Regions from separate parts of the Homo sapiens genome. Here all the other regions are reported to be linked to region 1. The links are microRNA targets in miRTarBase. Many come from high-throughput screens and were not tested one by one. Region 1 holds a microRNA gene; each other region holds the end of a gene's coding sequence. Distances are from middle to middle.

Region 1 (7,098 bases):
AAACAAAAAACTAAATGTTGTTTCTTGCTAAAGTAAAGGGAGAAAAATCTAATTGTCTGAGGCACATGGGTTAAATAGTTCTCTAAATGAGAACTTAGTCTACTTCCTTAGGCAGAAACATACTATTTCCTCTTTTTAATCTCTATTATGAAGAATCTAAGAATCCCTAGAAAACCAAATACTCTTCCCTTTCATCAGGTTCATCTGTACAAAGAGGTGTATAAAGGGATTTATTTAGAATTGCTCATCGATGCAAAATGCTGGTGACTCTTTTGTAAATATAAATATTATTTAATAGGGAAACAGTTTTATTCATCTCTATGTAATATGTATATCTATGTAATGAAATAAAATGTGGCTTTAAAAAGAGTAAACAAGATGCATATGTACTGACATGGAACGTCCTCTAAGATATCCTGATAAAGAAAGAAACAAGAAGCAAAATAATATATACATCTGTTACCATTTGTAGTTTAAAAATAGGAAGGGGAGTGGGGAGAGGTATACATATCTCTGGTAACCTGGGGAAGCAGAACCAAAGTATGTGGAAGGCAGAGGAGGAGAAATAATTTTTTCCTTATTATACAATCTTTTGTGCTGTTTAAATAGTGAAGCATGCTGCAATATTTCTTATTTAAATTACACAAATAAATCATTGAAAATGTAACCCATGTGTATAGCCTTGACGTTCTTCTGGTCCAAACACATACTTTCAAGACTTATCTTTTTCTTTTATCAGAGGCGTTTGAACCAGAGCAACTCCATCTTGAAAAGGGGCTGAGTACAATAAGGCTGAGCCCTACTGGGCTGCATTCCCAGGAGGATAAGGCATTCTTAGTCACAGAGATAGGAAGTTAGCACAAGATACAAGTCATAAAGACCTTGCTGATAAAACAGGTTTGCAGTAAAAAAGCCAGCCCAAACCCACCAAAGCCAAGGTGGGAATGAGAGTGACCTCTGGTCTTCCTCACTGCTGCAGTCCCGCCAGTGCCTGACAGTTTACAAATGCCACAGCAATGTCAGGAAGTTACCATATATGGTCTAAAAAAGGGGAATATTAATAATCCACCCCTTGTTTAGCATGTCATCAAGAAATAACCATAAAAATGGGAAACCAGCAGCCCTCGGAGCTGCTCTGCCTATGGAGTAGCCATTCTTTATTCCTTCACTTTCCTAATAAACTTGCTTTCACTTAACCCTATGGATTCACCTCAAATTCTTTCTTGCACAAGATCCAAGAACCCTCTCTTGGGTTCTGGATTGGGACCCCTTTCCGGTAACAGTTTTACTCTAGTATAAAGATGACACATACTGTTCAAAGCATCTTAAAGATCACCTGGTCAAACCACCTCATTTTAAGGAAGTACCTTCTAAAGGTACTTCCTCCAAGAGTGGAAGGTACTTGGCCAGGATTACACAACTTGTTAGTACCAATGTCCAGACTAGAGCCTCAAGCTTCTTAATTCTACAGAAGTGCTCTACTGTGGTGCCAGACCCCTATTGACTCCAGTAGGGAAGGCACCAATGCACCATGTCCAAGAGCCCAAAGAAGAGACCCAAGTGAATAAGATATAGACTTTATCAAGGACGTACATACAGGGCAGTCAGGGAGTGGTCGGATGGACAGGAAAAGTGCTACCACTTGTAAAGATCATGGAGTTTATATAAAAATGTTCATTTAACCCCCTCCACCTAGCAACCTCCACCTAGCAAACTCCATTTAACCCAAAACATAGGGCCTCAATCCTCTGCATGACCTGCATTCTAAGGGATGGGCCAGGGATTCATATGTTCTTCATAGAGAAGGAGTGAATCTCTGGGTTGGCCACTCCCGGATTCCTTAGCTCAGAACTCCTAACACACATTTTTCTTAGACGGTAGGTCATTCATAGGGTATGCTTGAGTTAATGCTCTCAGGTGTGTCTGCCATATATCTTCTCACCCTGCGGCCCTCTAGGAGAGGGAATAAACAGCCTTGACCGTGAGAGTGACTTTCTTCCCATTTCTCCTACCTGGTACTGCTTGCTAAGGCCCGTACCTCTGCACCTCATGTCCCAGGGCATCCTGCCTACACTTTAGGCATCAACTAACTAGAATAACAAAATAATAAAATGTCCTAACTTGGGCCTTCTTAATTTGAGGTATGTGAATGGGCTTCAGGAAATCCTGAATCTAATAAAAAGCTAAGGACTCTAGGGAGAGAGTTCAGTTTTCCATGAGCTTCACTGCCAAGTAAGACAAATAACACGTTTATGGATATATAAAAGAGACCTCAGAAGCCATCAAGCCATCAGATACTCAATTGTCCCTGACAACAACTTGCATTTTTTCCTTCTGTTAGAATTATATCCAAGTGCTGGAGAGTTGTCACCAACAACAGTAATATTCACTTGGACATTTAGCTCTAGTTTAAAGCACTGGAGAGAATTTGGTTTCCTGTAGTTGAATTTGCAGCGTTTAAAAAAAATATTAGCCTGCCTTATGATATTTTATAAGTATTTAGGAAGTAAAATTTTGGTTGAACAAAAGCCATAATTTATTTAACAAATATTTATATAGGGCTTACTATATGCTAGGCACTGTTTTAAATGCTTTATAATAATTAAGTCATTGAATTGTCAGAGAACTACCTATGAGGTAAGTGCTGTTCTTATATCCATTTCACAGGTGAGGAAACTGAGGCACAGACAGGTTGGGGAAGCAATCCAAATGAAGACATCAGAGGGTATTCACCCAGCAAGAGGCAGAACTAAGATCTAAATTCAGGCAGTCTGGATCCAGCATTTATGTTCCTAAACACATCTTTGCTCGCTTCCTGTTATGAGTGTGAAAAGAATATTCTGTTTCATAGAAGATGATCATCATCAGGTTTTACCACAAACCTTGCATTGGCTTTAGGAGTAAAACATAAATAGCTATATTTTTTCTAATTTCTTTATGTTAGTTCTAATAAACAATGTATTAAATACATATTTTTAGGGCATTACATGCATATTTAATTTGACCAAGCTGATATTATCGGGTTTCATACTCCTTTTTTGCATCAGTACACACATTCAATTTTATATTTGACTTTTTTTTTAATTGCACAGGGAGCCAATTGGCAGCTTTGGATCAAATTGGCTTACATATATGTTTTGGCCAGCATGACGTTTAAGAATTTATTTCCTTCCTTCCTTCCTTCCTTCCTCTCTTTGTTTCCTCCTTTCTTTCTTTTTTTCTTTGACAACATTTACAAATTGGGAAATTGACCATGAAAGTCTAAATTTCTGGCTTCTTTTTGAAAAGACAGAAGGAAGCATTGGGTTTGCATTCAGGCATGGAAATATTAGGCTGGACTGAGAAGTGGCTGACCTTTTAGATGAAGTTTGTGTTCCCCAGTTGGCCATAGTTTTTACCAGTTTGCTTTGCTTGATATCTGCATGCATTTGGGTTACGGCAGTTGAATGAGGTATGCATGTCCTTAGAGGCCAAGAAACAATTTACTTACTGACTGAGCTTTAGCATGAGAGAGCATAATGACATGTGAGTTACCGGTGAATCAATTACAAGAGGTACCCAAAGGTAAGCGTGCAGTTGAAAGTTTCATATACAAGTGGTTGTAAATAAATAGCCTATAACTAAAAAGTAAGAATCATGGTAATGGTTAAATGTTCATTGAATACATACTAAGCACAAGATTTCTTATAGGTATCAGTCCCTTTAACTCTTGTAACAAGCCTAGGAAGTAGAAAACTGAGACAGAGGCAAGCTAAGTAACTTGTGCAAGATCACCAGCTAATAAACAGCGCAGTTAGGACTTCAGTCAGGCAATCTGGTTCTGGAATCTGTGGCTTATATTATGCTATACTTTCTCTCTAAAAACTCTGAAAGAACTCTCTAGTACTGGCAGAGAATGGGATTTACTGGTTAATTCATATGATGGTTTGACAATTGCTGTGTGAATTATCAATTGTTAGGAGGTAAGACCAGTTGAGAACTTTAAGCAGTACTTCACTGGGGTTTGGCAAATTGGTAGAGAGACCTTGAATCTAGAATCTAGTGCTTGACTTTATAGGCCCAGAAACCATATTTCACCCATTTGTAAAAATCATAATATAAAATCACCAGTATGTTTGTAACCCAGAAGTACAAAAAGTGAATAAGGAATTTGAGATGCCATTATATACAGAGGTGAGTGGTAAGGTCTGGTTTACTGGCATCCTGGGAGCTCCTGGCCAGAGCAGAAGGTGAACATTGTCAAAATTGAAACAAGGGATCAAGAAAGCCAGGCCTGCCTCCAGGTTGAGGTAAATAGTTCAAATTATGAAGTTCAAGCAGCTACAGAATGATCTGTTCCAGGGGTTCAAAACTTTTTTGTGCATCAGACTCACCTGGGGGAAGTTATAAAAACAAACAAACATAGAAATGTTCTGCTTTATATTTTTAGACCTACTAAAGCACCTACCCTGGAGTTCTAGTGAGTTACTGAGCTAATTCTGTTGCTTCTGGCCCACTGATTGGTATTTGAGAAACACTGTTCTAGTTGGAATTTGCCTTTTGAGAACGTTAATGCATAGTATCAGATAGATACGAGAGTGATAGATTAAGATGATAGCTATGATTCCTGTATTAATTAATGCATGAAAGTGTTAGCCAGCTTATGGCATGACCCTCTCACCTGATTTCTACCAATCTCTCCCCAGAAAGAAATCAGCTGAGGAAAGGTTGGTAGAAATCAGGTGAGAGGGTCAAGTCATAAGCTGGCTGAGTTGGGGAGTAGGCAGGGGTCCAGTCCTGGGAGAATCAGTGCAGAAAGCAACTGAGGCAGTGCCAATGTTTAATGAGAGGCTTATAAAATTGCCACAAAGTGAGGCCCTAGCTACATGTCATGAGAACTCCCTGGCAGAGGGGAGAAAGCAAATTTGGATTAGAATGGGAGGTATCAGCTAGAAAATCAGAAATCTGACCAAATAATGATAAACATGATAGTTTATGAATTAGGAAGCAGGGAAGTGAAACCCTACCCCACAAATGATAGATTAGGAAAGATTTGAGATGAATAGTAGAAAAGATAGTGCATAAGGTCTCCTCTGCTCTCCCCAGAACTGAGGGATGATTAAAGTTAATAGCATTTGTTGGGTTCTACTTAATAAGTACAACTTTTTGGATTTATTAAACCAGTTGGCATTGGTTGTGTTATGCTATAACAAACTCCAAATCTCAGTGGCTAACAAGGAAGTTGACTTCTTGTTCTTCTGACAACCCATGTGTTGTCCCTGCTTTGGGTCCCAGGCTGATAGAATAGTCGCTATCAGGAGGATGCTACCATGGCAGGGACAAAGAGAGCTCAGAGGAAATCATGCCAAGAGATAAACATTCAACAGGAAAGTGGCATACATTGTTTGTGCTTTCAGTTCATTGGCCAGAATAGTTACATGGCCTCCACCAACCACTGGGAGCCATAGAGTGCTATGTGCCGGAGGGCAGAGAGCTGGGAATATTTAGTGAGCAGCATTCGGTACTACCATCTTTCCCTCTGAATAGGTTAACAGCCACAAGTCCTGTCACAATTTTTAGCAATTTCTTCAATGTCAAGAAGAATTATATTTCTTAGCTAACAGAGGTGGTGTAGTTTCAGGGTGCCTGCCTGGCCTATCTACAGCACTGTCAGCTCCATGCTCACCCTTGCTGAAGAGATGAGTCTCTCTGTTCAAGTTCGTCTAATGTCATAGCCTTTTCCCTGATTGGACCAGGGACCAACACCTATCCAGGTGGCTGTCAATCTGTTGGCTAGCCTGTAGGCAAATGTATTTTCTGAGACACAGAGTCTCTAGTCAAATGGATGTGGGCCTATGAAGTAAATGGGTCTGTAGACTTGGGCCCTGGGCATTTTGATCCTGTCTGTGGACAGTAGCCAATGATCATAGATGAGGAAGATTATATGCAGTTGAGACAAAGAGAGAGAAACTTCTATCTTCAGTGGTTCCCTGGATCTCAGCTCCTATTCCTGGGAGATTCACCTCTGCTTCATTTTTTGTGAAATGGCTTTATGGCCTTATAATAAATATTCATTTTATTTGAGCCACTTTATTATCCATATGAATAAATTGAGAAGCCTAGTCACTCTGCCTCTGCTGAGAGTATCATCTGTAAACCAGGACTGTAGAAATTCTGGGACTCGTGCTAGGGTGTATAGTTGGGAACTAACAAGAAAAACTTTCACTGTAAACCTACTTGAACTTTATTTTCTTATTTTCTGTATTCCTGATGCTCTGGCATCTTGGGCCTCACAGATCTGGAGGGATGGCCTCTCCCAGCATTAGTTAATTCCTGCAGATATCAAACAGTGTTACCTGGGAGGGTCTCTTTTATATGCAAACTAAGCAATTCAAAGCCTACTGTAACTAGCCCCCTACCTCTGTGGGACCCTTCCACTCCAGGCCAATAGTTTCTTGCCCTAATCAGCCCAGGGCGAGGTGCTAGACAATTCCAAACAGCTCCTACACCCCAGAGCCTGCTGAAATGATTCAACAAGACAATTCTAAACCTGCTTAGCCTATTTTCCTGCCTTGCCCATTCCTTTCCACAAAACTGCAGTAAAGGCGCTGACCCCTGCTTTTCCCCTGTGCCCCCTGCCTGGCTTCCACAAGCGACTTCCCTGCATTGCTGTGCCTCCTATTTCTAGGGAACTGTGAGTGCAAACACCTTCTTCCTTCATGACAGTCATTGTCAGGCTCACGTCTTACTATAAGTGATCAAAACAAACCCCAGTACATTTTAAAACAAAGCCTCTCTCTCTGTTTTCTTCTGGGCCTCAATCTTTGGGTACCTACTAGTTTATTTGTCAGAAGAGTAAAGACCCTCTGTTCTGGTAGGTGGTCCTCTCAGATGTCTAAATTATTAGCTGTCTAGTCTACTGCCACAGAACATATACAATAGAACAAAAAAAGTACTTTTTCCTCTTTAATCCTGTATTTATGATTATTATAATAAATTATCCTTATTTCTAAGCATATGTTTGGTAAAAAGTCAGTACTAATTGTCACAGGCACACTGTTTTACTGGACAAAGCTTGAAAACACATGGACACGTGCCTCCTCCAGACACTGTGCAAAC
Region 2 (7,120 bases), 30 Mb from region 1:
TCTCGGCTCACTGCAACCTCCACCTCCTGGCTTCAAGTGATTCTCCTGCCTCAGCCTCCTGAGTATCTGGGATTACAGGCACGTACCACCATACCTGGCTAATTTTTGTATTTTTAGCAGAGACGGGGTTTCACCATGTTTGTCACGCTGGTCTCGAAATCCTGACCTCATGATCCTCCCACCTCAGCCTCCCAAAGTGCTGGGATTAGGTATGTGATTTTGACAAATTTACTTAACCATTTTCTATTTCAGTTTTCCCCATTGTGAAATGGCGATGATACTTGGTGCGACCACAGGTAACTGTGTCAGTACACATAAGGCACATGAATGATATGTACCACATGCCAAGTGCTCCACAATGCCAGCTGTTATTTGAATGTATTTGAATGTATTTTGACTAACAGCAGATGTGCTAAATTTGGCTGTGATTAACAGCCATCGAATTAACCTTTCCCCTGGATTCTTCATACATATATGTCCTTGGAGGTAAACTTATTTGGAATGAGCAAATAGCAGTTGAAAATTGTAAAAAATTTCTACACTGATCTTGTATCTTGAAACTTTGCTGAACTGGTTTATTAGTTCTAATAGTTTTCTTGTGGATTCCTTAGGATTTTCAAGACCATGCCATCTGTTAACAAAAATATTTTAACTTCTTTCTTTGCGATTTGGATGCCTTTAACTTCCTTTTCTTGCTGTTTTTCCCTGCCTAGAACTTCCAGCACTATGTTTAACAAGAGTGGTGAGAGTGGCCACACTTCACTTGTTCCTGATCTTAGGGGGGAAGCATTCAGTCTTCCACCAATAAGTACAATGTTACCTGTGGATTTTTGTAGATGGCCTTTATCAAGTTGAAGGAGAGGAGTTTGATAGTTTGTTCTAGTTTGTTGAGTGAATCAAGAAAGAGTGTGGATCTTCATCAAATGCTTTTTCTGTGCCCAGCAAGATGATCATGTGGTTTTTGTCCTTTATTCTATTAATATCGTGTATTACATTGATGAATTTTTTTATGTTGAATCAATCTTCCATTCCTGAATAAACCCTACTTGGTCATGGTATCTATCCTTTTTATATGTTGCTAAATTTAGTTTGTTAGTATTTTATTGAGAATTTGTTTTTTCAAGTCAGATGCATAATGTGCCAATGTTGAAACAAGCTTCGAGGGTAGCACTCACACATCCACGTGAATGCCCAATCATCACATTCATGAACTACAAAAGGATCTTATTGAGGATTTTTGCGTCTATATTCAGAAGAGGTATTACAGGTTGAGTATCCCCAATCTGAAATCTGAATTCCAAAATGCTTTAAAATCCAAAATTATTTGAGTGCTGATGTGACACCACAAGAGGAAAGTTCCACACTTGGCCTCATATGGTGGGTCATAGTCAAAACGCACTCGAAACTTTGTTTCATCCACAGAGTTACTTAAAATATTGTGCAATTACCTTCAGGCTATGTATATAAGGTGTATATGAAACATAAATGAGTTGTGTTTAGGCTGGTGTCCCATCCCCAAGATATCTCATTATGTATGTGCAAATATTCCAAAAACTCCAAATCTGAAACGCTTCTGGTTCCAAGCATTTCCAATAGGGGATACTCACTATAATCTGTAGTTCCCTTATGGCGTCTTTGTTCAGCTTTGGTATCCAGATAATATCGATCTCATAAAATGAGTTCCCTCCTCTTTTGTTTTTTTTGGAAAAGTTTATGAAGGATTGGTGTTAATTCTTCTTTAAACATTTTGGTAGAATTTAGCAGTGAAGCCATCTGGGACTGGGCTTTTCTTTGTGGGAAGTTTTCAATTGTTAACTCAATCTCTGTGCTTGTTATAACTCTGTCTCAGTCTGTTTTTGTGTTGTTATAACAGAATACCTGAGACTGGGTAATTTATGAAGAGAGATTTATTTCTTACAGTTCTGAAGGCTGGGAAGTCTTCCAGTCTCAGACGGAAGATGGAGGGGCCACACCTGGCCAGGGCCTTCATGTTTCATCCTCCCATGGCAGAAGGAAGGGAGAGGAGGAGGTAAGAGAGAGAGAGAAAGATAGAGGTGGGGGTGGGGATAAAGATTTTGGGGAAGAAGAAGGCCGAACTCATCCTTTTATCAGGAACCCACTTCTGAGATAACTAACCCACTCCCACAATAATGGCATTAATCCATTCATGGGGGCTCTGCCTAGTAACCCTTAAAGGTCTCACCTCTCAAAGCTGTTGCTTTGGGGATTAAGTTTCCAACGCATGAGCTGTGGGGGACACATTCATACCATAGCAAGCTCTATTCACAACATCTATTTCTTGTGGAGTCAGATTTGGTATTCTGTGTCTTCCTAGGAATTTGTCCATTTCATTTATCTAATTTGTTGGCATTCAATTGTTCATAGTATTTCTTTCTAATAATTTTTATTTCTATAAGTTTGGTAATAAAATCTTGACTTTTGTTTCTGATTCTAGTAATTTGAGTCTTTTGAGGGGGTGGTCAATCTAGCTAAATGTTTGCCATTTTGTAGATCTTTTCAAAGAACCAGCTTTTGATTTCATAATTTTTTTTCTGTATTGCTTTTCTATTCTCTATTTCATTTATTTCTGTTCTAGGCTTTCCTTCTTTCTGCTTTCTTTGGACTGTTATTATCAATTATTGAGAATGTTCTATGAATATACCACATTATGACTATATATTAGTGAAGTTTTCTTAAGAATTTTAATTTTTGCTAAAATTTGCCTCATATATTTTTGGTATATGTTGTTAAGTATATTTAAGTTCAAAGTTATTATATATTTCAGGTTAGTTGTTCCTTTTGTTGTTGTCTAATATACTTCATTTCTAAAAAAACTGTTTTGGCCAGGTGAGGTAGCTCACACCTGTAATCTCAGCCCTTTGGGAGGCTGAGACGGGAGGATCACTTGAGCTCAGGAGTTTGAGGCCAGCCTGGGCAACATGGCAAAACCTGTCCCTACTAAAAATACAAAAATTAGCTGGGTGTGGTGGCGTACACCTGTAGTCCCAGCTACTTGGGAGGCTAAAGCAGGAGAATCATTTGACCCAGGAGGCGGAGGTTGCAGTGAGCCGAGATTGCACGGCCTGGGTGACAGAGCAAGACTCCATCTCAATAAAAAAGTTTTGCCTTGAAGTTTAATTTGACAGATATTGATAAAACTATGCCACTTCCTTCCTATGTAAAGCTACTTTTAAAAAATATGTATATAAGTATTTGAAGCTATAAATTTCCTTCTAAGCATTGATTTAGCTTCATCCCATGTTTTGGTTTGTTGTGCTTTTGTTTTTTTCAGTTAAAAGTGTTTTCCAATTTTACTCATGATTTCTTCTATTTATTTATTTATTGAGACAGTATCACTGTGTTGCTCAAGCTGGAGTGCAGTGGCACAGTCACAGCTCACTGCAGCCTCGACCTCTGTGGCTCAAGGGATGCTCTTACCTCAGCCTCTCGAGTAGCTGGGACCATGGGCTCTGGCCGTCATGCCCAGCTAATTTTTTATTTTTTGTAGACACAGGGTTTTGCCATGTTGCTCAGACTGTGATTACCTCTTTAACCACTGGTTATTTAGGAATGTGTTGTTTAATATCCACATATTTGTGAATTTCCCAAATTTTATTGATTTCTAATTTCGTTCCATCATGTTTGGAGAACACACTGCATAGTTTCAATCCTTGTGATTCTCCTGCCTCAGCCTCCCAAGTAGCTGGGACTACAGGTGTGTGCCACCATGCCCAGCTAATTTTTTTTTTTTTTTGTATTTTTAGTAGAGGCAGGATTTCACCATGTTGGCCAGGATGGTCTTGATCTCTTGACCTCGTGATCTGCCCGCCTTGGCCTCCCAACGTGCTGGGATTACAGGTGTGAGCCACTGCGCCTGGCCTATTCAAAACATTTTCTATGTCCTTTTTTAAGTTTTGAAGTTTTCTCCACAGAGGTATTAATTTTTTTGTGAATTTCTAGGTACTTTTACATTTTTCATTGAGAGGTACTTATCTTATGTTTCTTTTATTTTTTATTTTTTATTTTTTATTTTTTTTTTGAGACAGAGTCTTGCTCTGTTGTCCAGGCTGGAGTGCAGTGGTGCGACCTCAGCTCACTGCAACCTCCACCTCCCAGGTTCAAGCAATTCTCCTTCCTCAGCCTCCCGAGTAGCTGGGATTACAGGTGTGTGCCACCATGCCTGGCTTTTTTTTTTTTTTTTTTTTGTATTTTTAGTAGAGACGGGATTTCACCATGTTAGTCAGGCTGGTCTCAATCTCCTGACCTCGTGATCCGCCCGCCTCGGCCTCCCAAAGTGCTGGGATTACAGGCATGAGCCACCACCCCCAGCCCTTATGTTTCTTTATTACTGGTGTTCAGAAATGGTATTAATTTTGTAGGTTGATCATGTGGCTGGAAAATATGCTAACTTGTCATTCTAAAAGTTTGACTCTTTATTTTGTGAGTTTTGCAAGTTTATCATCTCACCTTCAAAAATCTGTTTTTATTTCTTCCTGTGATAGTTTTTACACCTCTTATTATGTCTGGACCATTGTACTATATATATATATATTATTTTTTCATTGTACTATATTAAAACTAGTGGTGACAGTAATTTCCCCTCAAATTAGGACTGAAAGTCTCATTTTAAAAAAACCCAAATTCAGCCTGGGCAACAAGGCGAAACCCCATCTCCACTAAAAATACAAAAATTAGCCAGACATGGTGGCGCATGTCTGTAGTCTCAGCTACTCAGAAGGCTGAGGTGGGAGGACTGTTTGAGCCCAGGAGGCAGAGGCTGCAGTGAGCCAAGATGGTGCCACTGCACTCCAGCCTGGGTGACAGAGTGCTGTCTACAAAAAACAAATAACAAACAAAAAATGAAAAATTGGAAACAAAATGTAAGTTTATAACTTTCTGTCATTAAAAGTGGATGATAGTGTACTCACTTCCACAACACATATACTAAAATCAGAATGATACAGAGAGAAAAGTGGATGATGGTTTCTTCGGTTTCCTTGAAAAAAAGTGTTTTTAAACTAGATAACCCAGCCGGGTGCGATGGTGCACTCCTGTATTCCTAGCACTTTGGGAGGCTGTGGCAGGTGGATGGCGTTAAGTCCAGGAGTTGGAGACCAGCCTGGGCAACATGGCAAAACCTCGTCTCTACAAAAAACACAAAAATTGGCCAGGCTCGGTGGCTCATGTCTGTAATCCCAGCACTTTGGGAGGTCAAGGCAGGCGGATCACTGGAGGTCAGGAGTTCAAGACCAGCCTGGGCAACGTGGTGAAACCCCGTCTCTACTAAAAATACAAAAGTTAGCCAGGCATGGTGGCACACGCCTGTAATCCCAGCTACTCAGGAGGCTGACACAGGAGAATCACTTGAACCCCAGGAGGTGGAGGTTGCACTGAGCTGAGATCCCGCCACTGCACTCCACCCTGGGTGACAGTGCGAGACTCAGTCTCAAAAAAAAAAAATTAGCCAGGTGTGGTGGCGAGCATCTGTAGTCCTAGCTACTCAGGAGGCTGAGGTGGGAGGATCACCTGAGCCCAGGAGGTCAAGGCTTTTGTGAGCCGTGACTGTACCACTGTATTCCAGCCTGGGTGACAGAATGAGAGCTAGTTTCAAAAAAATAAAAGTGGATAACCCCCAAAACCACTGTCCTACTTTTAGAAAATCCAAGATAGTTTTGGGAAGGGAATTTTGGAGTCTCATTGGCCATGAAAGGGACTAGGCAGGCTTCTCAGGGAGACTTGTGGGGCTGATTACGTAGTGCCCAGCTCTACTTGGAAAACTCTTTTTGCAACATTTACATGGAAATCAGAGACACAGACCCAGATGTTGGGTTAAAATGAGACAAAGGAAAAAAACAGTCATGTACAAGAGGCAAGAAGACCACTTTTCTAAATGATCTATATTTATTAGTACTCTGGTCAGAGAAATCCCAAGTCTACCATATTGGAGGTTTTCTGGAATTCCAGGCTATCTGTTAGACTGTAGGCTTCAAAGGCTTGGCTTGTCATATTGGGCCAGGTTTGTGCAGGAGATAGGCCTACAGCTGGACCAGCAAAGATGCTGAGAGAGGAACCCTGTCCTCCTACCTGGTACTTTGTGGGTGAGAGATACTGATACAGACAGTGGAAAGAAGAGCTGGATATCTCATTCTCATCAGGAAGATTGTACAGTTCTATGATTTGGAATATGTCATAGGCATCAGAGTACAAAGCAGGAACCGAGGCCACCAGCCTCTCCCACTGAGTATCTTGCATTTGGAAGTCACTGGTAGAACTCTCAGTGAAGGTAGAGTTCCATGCCCAATTGGAAGGGTCTAAGGGCTGAGATGGAAGGGAGCTGTAGAAATCTGAAATCACAGGAGAAAAAGCATAAGGACTGGGGGATGTTCTGGGGGAGGTGGGCACATTCTTCTTGGATGGAAGGATCTGGTTTCGTTGCTTTGCTGATTGCTGCTGCTGCTGCTTCTTCAATTTGAATCGCCGGTTCCTGAACCAAACCTGGGAGTAGGGGAAGAGGGGGAGATTGTGGTCTGTTATTGGAGGAGGCATTGGAGGATTCTCCTGAGTGAAAACAGCCAGGTTATAATCTTCATGTCCTCTCTAATTCACCATGACACTGGGCTCTGCAAAAGCAGAGATGGGCATGACTGGAGTCAGTAGGAGGGATGATGAAGATCAGGTCTGGGACCCCAGAAAGGAAGGAAGCGGGTGTGTTTCAGGGTTTGTGCTGGGTGTTCAGAGATAGGGTCCTGAACTCTAGAGAAGAGAGGCTAGTTTAGGGATCTAGGATCTAGGGAGAGGTGAAGAATTTGAACTGAAGGATTTTTAAGGATTATTTTAGGAGGCCTCTCCTATAAGGAATACTCCAGTAAAAATGTATGGCCAGTCACGGTGGCTCACACCTGTAATCCCAGCACTTTGAGAGTCTGAGGTGAGAGGATCACTTGAGCTCAGGAGTTTGAGACCAGCCTGGGCAACATAGTGAGACCCCATCTCTGAAAAAAAGAGAAAAAAGAAAAACGTCATGGGCTTTAGCAGACTCAGAGGTTAGAGGGAGTATTATTTGTCTGTTGGTAGCATTATGAATAAACAGATTGCAGGGCTTTGCTTAAAAAGACTCTAA
Region 3 (7,120 bases), not on the chromosome of region 1:
GCAGCCTGGTCCTTGGAGGCTGGGGGAGGGGACACCCCTGTTTCCAAGTGCTCCCGGGAGGCCAGGCTGTCAGAGCTGTACTAAAATGTAAGGTTTGCTCTTGAGAAGGCTCAAAGATCCCACTTCTCATGGGAAGCGTGGAGTCCCTGCAGGGGCCCCAACTCTCATCCAGGCCTGCGAGGTCAGAGGCCCTCTCACTGGTCCCCAGATTCGAGCTCCCGCCGTGCTTGCTGGGACTGCCAGATGTCCCTCCTGACTCCAGGGAAAGGAAGTTCCAGGCTCCTCTCCCCTCTGACCCCCATACCGTGGGTCCTGCCAGTTGCTAGTTGCTCTTCTATGTCTTCAGACGCTCCCCATCTTAAGATTCACTTTCTGCAGACCCCACCACCTCCTCAACCATTTTATCTAGCTGTGCCTCTGGATACGGGTGTGGGACCCCACTGACAGGCCAGGCCAGGGCCAGTGTGCATCACCATCCCCGTGCAGTGCCCTCCTTTAAGGCCCACTTTGGTTTCTGCTGCCCTCATTTCCTCTTCCCCTTCTGCCAGGACCTGAGCTCTTTCTCCTTCCCAGCATCATCGAACTTATTCCATCCACCTCCTCAACTCCCATTCCCTCTGCAAGTCTCAGTGATAAGAGTAGCCAATGTTGACTGAGTGAGTCCTTCATCGTCCGCATCAGTGATTCACTGAATCCACACAGTAACCTACAAGGCAGGAATCATTACCCTCTTTTTCAGATGAGCAAACTGAATCTTCCGAAGGTTCAGACTGCACATTGCAGAGCTGGACTGTGACCCACACTAAGTTTGGACCTGCCCCACCATGAGGCTAGAGCCATCTCTTCACAGTTCTCACTCGGGGGGCTGGGCTGGGGCCAATGGAAGCCTGAGAGAGGCCGTCTCTTCCTGGTCCCCCTCCCCACTGAAAGTGCTTCCTTGACTTGAAGTCGCCCGCTGTCCAGATGCTCCTCTCTCCCCTGCCCACAGGCTCAGTCCTCAACCCTCTTGTCCCTCGGCCACAGCGCTCACCCCCACACCTCCAATCATCATCTCTGGGTGGAGACTCATTTCCTCTCCTGCCCACTCAGTTTCCCAGCTGGCTGGTGGACATCTGCCCCCAGAGATGCTTGGACAACCCCAACCGAATGCGTTCCACATCCAAACTCCTGATTGCCACCCTCCCAAACCCCCTCCCTCTCTCGAGAGCCCCATCCTTGCGCCTCCTCGTTACACGGGCTCCACCTGCCAACACCAGCTCTGCCATTCTCCTCTCCCTCAGCCTCCACGAGCCATCATCGGGTCCTTCCCACTTCCTGCTTCCAATACCACTATTCTGGTTCTCCTTCCCAAGTGCTGAGCACAGGGACCTGGAGAGCACATGCTGAGACTGTTAGAATGAACTGCCATTTGCCTCAACCGTTCACTCATCCAACAGTTATTTATTGAACGCCATGGACCAGGTACCGTGCCCAGCAGCTGGGATGCAGCACTGAACACGAGACAAGCCCCTGCCCTGGAGGGGCTTACATCCCGGCAGGGTAAACAGCCAGTAACTTCAGAAACCAAACATCCAGTACGTCAGAGTGCCATGGGAAAGGTACGCTGAGCAAGGGCGGGCAGTGCCAGGGCTGGGGTGCCACTGTACAGGGTGATGGGGAGGCCCTCCTCCCTGGAGAGGGCGGCATGATCCTAGTGGGCCGAGGTCAACCGCCAGGGTCAAACGGAACACAACCCACTCTCAGGAAGACATCCCTAACACAAATCCAGGGACTTTGTTTCTTAACCTTAAAATTGGAAACACTTCTTGCTACCAGGGATGGGGGGTGGGGCTCAGCGTTTGGGGAACCGGAGTGGGAGTCTTTTGCTGAACAGACTTTTGTTTTCTTAAGTTTTGAACTACATGAATGTATTTCCTTTTTTGAAAGGAAAATTGAAATAGGAAAAAATTTTAAGTCTTTTGGAAAGAATTAATCATTTTCATGGAACTGCTTCCCTATAGGGGCCTGTTTTCGTATCTGCCAACTTCCACTGAAACACGCAGATGGAGAACCCTCCAGTGCTCCCGAGAAGGGAGACAGTCTTAACCCAGAGGACAGCATCCACCAGCCTGCAAGCACGGACCCCGTGCTGGTGTGTGAGTGCAGCACACACTGGGCTAACCATCACCACAGTGAGACTGGCACCCTCTGGGGTAGGGTAGACTCAGGAAGGTGAAAATCAGGATGTCTGCCAGGAGCTGACAAATCCCTCTGGGACTCTCATACTTCAGAGGCTCTCCAGTTTGGCTATTGCTAAACTTGGACTAGCCCCTACTACCGATCTTAATACCCATGTACCAATCATTGCTGCATCCTATTTGGAAAGCAATGGACAGACAGCCACGCTGAAAGCCCTTACTAGAGACTGGTCCACAAGATCAGATTTAGCTGCCCCTGGTTTGAGCCTTGCTCCCCTGGTGTCTTTTCTGGCGAAGCTGGGCCCAGAGAGCGTTTTACTAAGTGGGCTCCATGGTAGTGGAAGTGGTGGGGACAGAAGGCTGGCTCTATATGTGGCAGAGGCCTGAATAAACAGGGATTTGAGAGGGCTCAAGATATCCTGACTTAATCCTCAATGTGGCAGGCACAGGGCCATGGCCAGGCCTAGAGGAAGGTGGGCTGTTTGGGGTATGGCCCAGCAGGGCACGATGTGATCAGGTAGGGCGTAGGGAAATGGGTTACTGTCCTCTAAATATTCCATATATCACAAAGTTACTGACTGCGGTCTCCACAAATTCAGGCTGCCAGTCCGATGCACTATATCCCAACAATCTGAGCACTCTGTCAAAGATGCTCACAGAGACAACAGGAGCAGACAGAGCCTTGTTTCTCTCTTAATCTTCAGAGCCTAGAACTGAGCTTGGCCCTCACCAGGCACTTAGAAATTGCATAATGAAAGAATTTCAGATTTTTATTAGTGGCAGTGAGCACTGAAAACCCAGTATTTGGCCAGGTCCAGTGGCTCACACCTGTAATCCCAACATGTTTGGGAGGCCAAGGCGGGAGGATGGCTTGAGGTAAGGAGTTAGAGACCAGCCTGTGCAACATAGTGAGACCTTATTCTACTAAAAAAATAAAACTAGCCAGGAGTGGTGGTTGCGTGCCTGTGGTTCCAGCTACCTAGGAGGCTGAGGTGAGAGGATCACTTGACCCCGGGGCTTCGAGGCTGCAGTGAGCCATGATCACACCACTGCACTCCAGCCTGAGCCACAGTGTGAGACCCCCATCTCACAAAAAAAGGAAAGCCTAGTATTCTATACAACCTTAACCTATTTTTTTTTTTTTTTTTTTTGAGACGGAGTCTTGCTGTGTTGCCCAGGCTGGAGTGTAGTGGTGCGATCTTGGCTCACTGCAAGCTCTGCCTCCCGGGTTCATGCCATTCTCCTGCCGCAGCCTCCTGAGTAGCTGGGACTACAGGTGTCCACTACCACGGCTGGCCAATTTTTTGTATTTTTAGTAGAGATGGGTTTTCACTGTGTTAGCTAGGATGGTCTCGATCTCCTGACCTCGTGATCTGCCCGCCTCGGCCTCCCAAAGTGCTGGGATTACAGGCGTGAGCCACCGCACCTGGCCAACCTTAACCTATTTTTAAAAAAGATGTTTATGGCTTTGCTGATAGCAGGCTGGAAAGCTAGCTGAATTTGCAGGCAACCTCAAGTAGTTAATGAAAAATTATTGTGGCTTGTCCAAAGGGATTGAGTTTTCCAAATAAAAAAGTGGGCTTCAGTTTTATGTCATTGTAAGAGGCCATGTGAGGGATGTTTGGATGCTCGCTTTGAATCTGTAGGACCACTCAATGATTTTTTAAAACCATTGGTTTCTGGCAGGCAAAACATTCAAAATCTAGGCTATCCCAGGAAATCTAGCATAAGGGCTGTCCTGCAGTAATGCATTAAACCACGTAACAAACGAACTCAAGAAGAGGGATGTGGCTCTGGATTTGTGACCCTCAACATAACATTTACCACCTTGGGCTTCGGCTTCAACATCAGTTAAATGGAGGGACACAGACGACTCTTTGGCTCTTATACTCTATGACATGATCACTGGCCACCTTAGAAAATCAAGCCTATTTAGACCACGGTTTGTGAGAAGTCAGACTCTCTGAGGCTCAGTTTCCTTATCTATAAAAAAGAAGATGATAACATTGGGAGAAGCCATCTTAAGCAGCGAGGAAAGAAAAGGACAGTGGAGTCAAGTGAACAGTCTCAGATCTCAGCCCCGTGTAATCTAAGGGAAGGTTACTGGAGCTGGGTCTACTTTCGTCATCTGCAAAATGGGGATAAGAATGCCTGTTGTAAGGACAGTTGAATGATCTTGCTCATGCCAACTTACAGAAGGTACGAAATAAACGCCGATCTCCTTTATTCTGATCTCACATTCAGCAAATGTGAGAGAAATGTGAATGTACTGAAATGTCTGCCAGAAAAAAGAAAATCCAACCCCTCAAAAGAATGACATCAGGGGTTTTGATATCTATTCACCTACACTTCCCTCTTCCACAGGAAGCGGCCCACCTTCTGACCCACACTGCCCATCTCTGTGCTTATCATGGAGCTTTCAAGAGTGAGGATCGGAGGCTGTATTGAGCAGTGGGCACAAACCACAGGGAGCGCTGTTCAAAAATGGAAAACAAGGTGGCCCTGACACCGGGTGCTGCTGGGCACCCTCTCAGACCTGCCCTGCAACAGCATCAGGAGGCTGAGGGTCCCCAGCCAGAAGGCCCAAGAGGGGCCCAGGCTGGAAACTTTACTGCGAAGCAGCCCTCATCTTAAGGTGGCTCAACACCACACCTGAGATCTAGCCCATGCGACAGTATGGAAGCAGGAGGCCCTACTCCACCACAGAAAGAACATTTATGGGCGCCTAAGCCCTGGGAGAATGGCACCTGAGGGAACAGAGCGTGCCCACAAGCAGACCTTGGGGAGGGAGAAGAGGCAGCCCTGCTCCTAGTCGCAGCCAGCGTGCGTCATGTCCAGGCCCCACAAGGGTGACCCTGGCTCAGGTTCTCATGCTCCAGAAGCTGGCCCAGGTGGCAGTGGGTTCCCTATGGAGGCAGCTCATCATTCACAACACAGCAACAAACCTTCTGCTCTCATGAGGAGAATGTATTTTAAACTTGGGAAGAGTCATAATTCTGGGATGTTTCACATGTTGTCAGCTTTAACCTTCTACAGACACAGGCCCTCTCCTCTGTGAGGAGGGACCTCTGGCATGTGTGGGTGTGTGGTGGGTCCCTCTCCCTATTAGCAGAAATGTGTTGGGCATGAGCCAGGTTTATGATTTGGATTGTGTCCTGCACATAACACCTGTGAGAATACAACTGGGACTAGGACAATGCGGGAAGCATATTCTTCATGAGGCGGTAACCAAAAGGCTTGGCTATACCAAAGGATTCTGGTGGCCGGGCACGGTGGCTCACACCTGTAATGCCAGCACTTTGGGAGGCCAAGGCGGGTAGATCACTTGAGGTCCAGGAGTTCGAGCCCAGCCTGGCCAACATGGTGAAACCCTGTCTCTACTAAACATACAACAATTAGCTGGGCATGGTGGTGGGTGCCTGTAATCCCAGCTACTGGGGAGGCTGAGACAGGAGAAATGCTTGAACCCGGGAAGCAGAGGTTGCAGTGAGCCGAGATTGCACCACAGCACTCCAGCCTGGGTGACAGAGCAAGACTCCACCTCAAAAAAAAAAAACCACAAAAAAACACAAAAGGATTCTGGGTGTAACAATCTCAGTAGAGCCAGCGGGTGACTCTGGTTCTCCTAAAATTCTGCCCTTACTTGCCACTCACCACACCCCCAGATCTGAAGGGCCAGCCCTTTTCTACCTATGACACCTCACCAGCAAGTAAAGGGCACAGGACCTCAGAAGTCTGTGGTGCTAAGGATGAAGACTCTACTCAGAGAAGGTGCTCAGCCCTAGTGAGGAGGTTCTGGGAAGCAGGTGGGCCTGCTCAATGCAGTCCCTAACCCTTGGGAGCATCCATGTGAGAGGTAAAGGTGCAAATGACTTGGGCATGTTGACTCCCTACTGAGGAAGGCAGGGCCCCTCACATCTGCAGTGGCCGTATGCATCAGAGAACGGCATGACTGCACATGTGAGAACTGGGTGCACCCGAGCAGTGTCAATAGGAATCCCTTCCCTATTCCATGCCAAACAGTCTTCCCCAGACACAAAGTTTCCAGGTCCTGAGGCTTGACTCTTCTAAGGCTCAAAATGGGTTCTGTTTCCAGACGTGCTTGCCTTGCTTGTCTTTGCTTGTCTTAAGGACTCTATTTCAGGCCAATACTTGATCCTCAGACAAACTGGGACAGGTTGGGAACTTTGATGTTGAGATCGCCAATGTTGATGTTCCGAGGAATCTCTGGCAGGTTGATGTTTTTCACAGCAGACACAGCCCGCGCAGGGGCTGCTGAAAGGCCACCCTAAGAAGAAATGAGAGGCGAGTATGAGACAAATTCTCACTGTTATCTGCTTAATGCTAAAAAAAAAAAAAAAAAAAAAGCAAAAACAAAAACAAACAAGCAGGATGGGTGTGGTGGCTCACGCCTGTAATCCCAGCACTTTGGGAGGCCGAGGTGGGTGGATCACCTGAGGTCAGGAGTTCGAGATAGGCCTGGCCAACATGGTGAAACCCCATCTCTACCAAAAATACAAAAATTGGCCAGGAGTGGTGGCGGGCCCCTGTAGTCCCAGCTACTAGGGAGGCTGAGGCAGGAAAATCGCTTGAACTCAGAAGGCGGAGGTTGCGGTGAGCTGAGATCACGCCACTGCACTCCAACCTGGGCAACAGAGTGAGACTCTGTCTCAAACAAACAAACAAACAAAATAACAGGTGAAGGATGCCTAGAAAAATTCCAAACTGAGCACACACAACTGAAGTTTTAACTTTCCCCCCTTATTCCTCAAAAGTAGCCAACAAAACAATCTTGAGGTTAGATGGGGTTTGGCACAGGGATCCAAAGCCTGCAGTCCTACTAGACTACCAGCTCCTCAGAGGCGGAGTGTGGCCTATACAGTTTCACAGCCCCAGCCTCTCACAGTACCTGGCACATGGTGGGTACCCAATAAATGCTGAAA

The links. Region 1 holds the annotated microRNA hsa-miR-5186 (AGAGAUUGGUAGAAAUCAGGU, at 4,659-4,679, opposite strand). A microRNA usually pairs through its seed, bases 2 to 8, with sites in the 3' UTR of a target mRNA and lowers its output. Matches are read on the target gene's strand: a 7mer-m8 pairs with bases 2 to 8, a 7mer-A1 pairs with bases 2 to 7 and ends in A, and an 8mer does both.
Region 2: miRTarBase lists ARGFX as a target of hsa-miR-5186. Seed matches in the 3' UTR shown: 7mer-m8 at 3,071-3,077.
Region 3: the mRNA of AP3S2 is a reported target of hsa-miR-5186. Seed matches in the 3' UTR shown: 7mer-m8 at 5,671-5,677.

Annotation. Positions count from the first base shown.
Region 1 is chr3:151,561,246-151,568,343 of GRCh38, forward strand. It overlaps MIR5186 (microRNA 5186), which reads right to left and starts at 4,750; the gene lies at 4,631-4,750. The region is part of intron 1 of LINC02066 (long intergenic non-protein coding RNA 2066); the gene reads left to right. It also overlaps a transcript of IGSF10 not described here.
Region 2 is chr3:121,585,397-121,592,516 of GRCh38, reverse strand. It overlaps ARGFX (arginine-fifty homeobox), which reads right to left. Exons shown (of 5, transcript NM_001012659.2): 5 at 1,895-6,495. The coding sequence ends at 5,917. It overlaps LOC124906360 (small nucleolar RNA U13), which reads right to left and starts at 1,223; the gene lies at 1,123-1,223.
Region 3 is chr15:89,829,179-89,836,298 of GRCh38, forward strand. It overlaps AP3S2 (adaptor related protein complex 3 subunit sigma 2), which reads right to left. Exons shown (of 6, transcript NM_005829.5): 6 at 1,421-6,465. The coding sequence ends at 6,337. ARPIN-AP3S2 (ARPIN-AP3S2 readthrough) reads right to left here. Exons shown (of 10, transcript NM_001199058.2): 10 at 1,421-6,465. The coding sequence ends at 6,337. It overlaps LOC124903552 (a long non-coding RNA gene), which reads left to right and starts at 6,731. Exons shown (of 2, transcript XR_007064754.1): 1 at 6,731-7,120.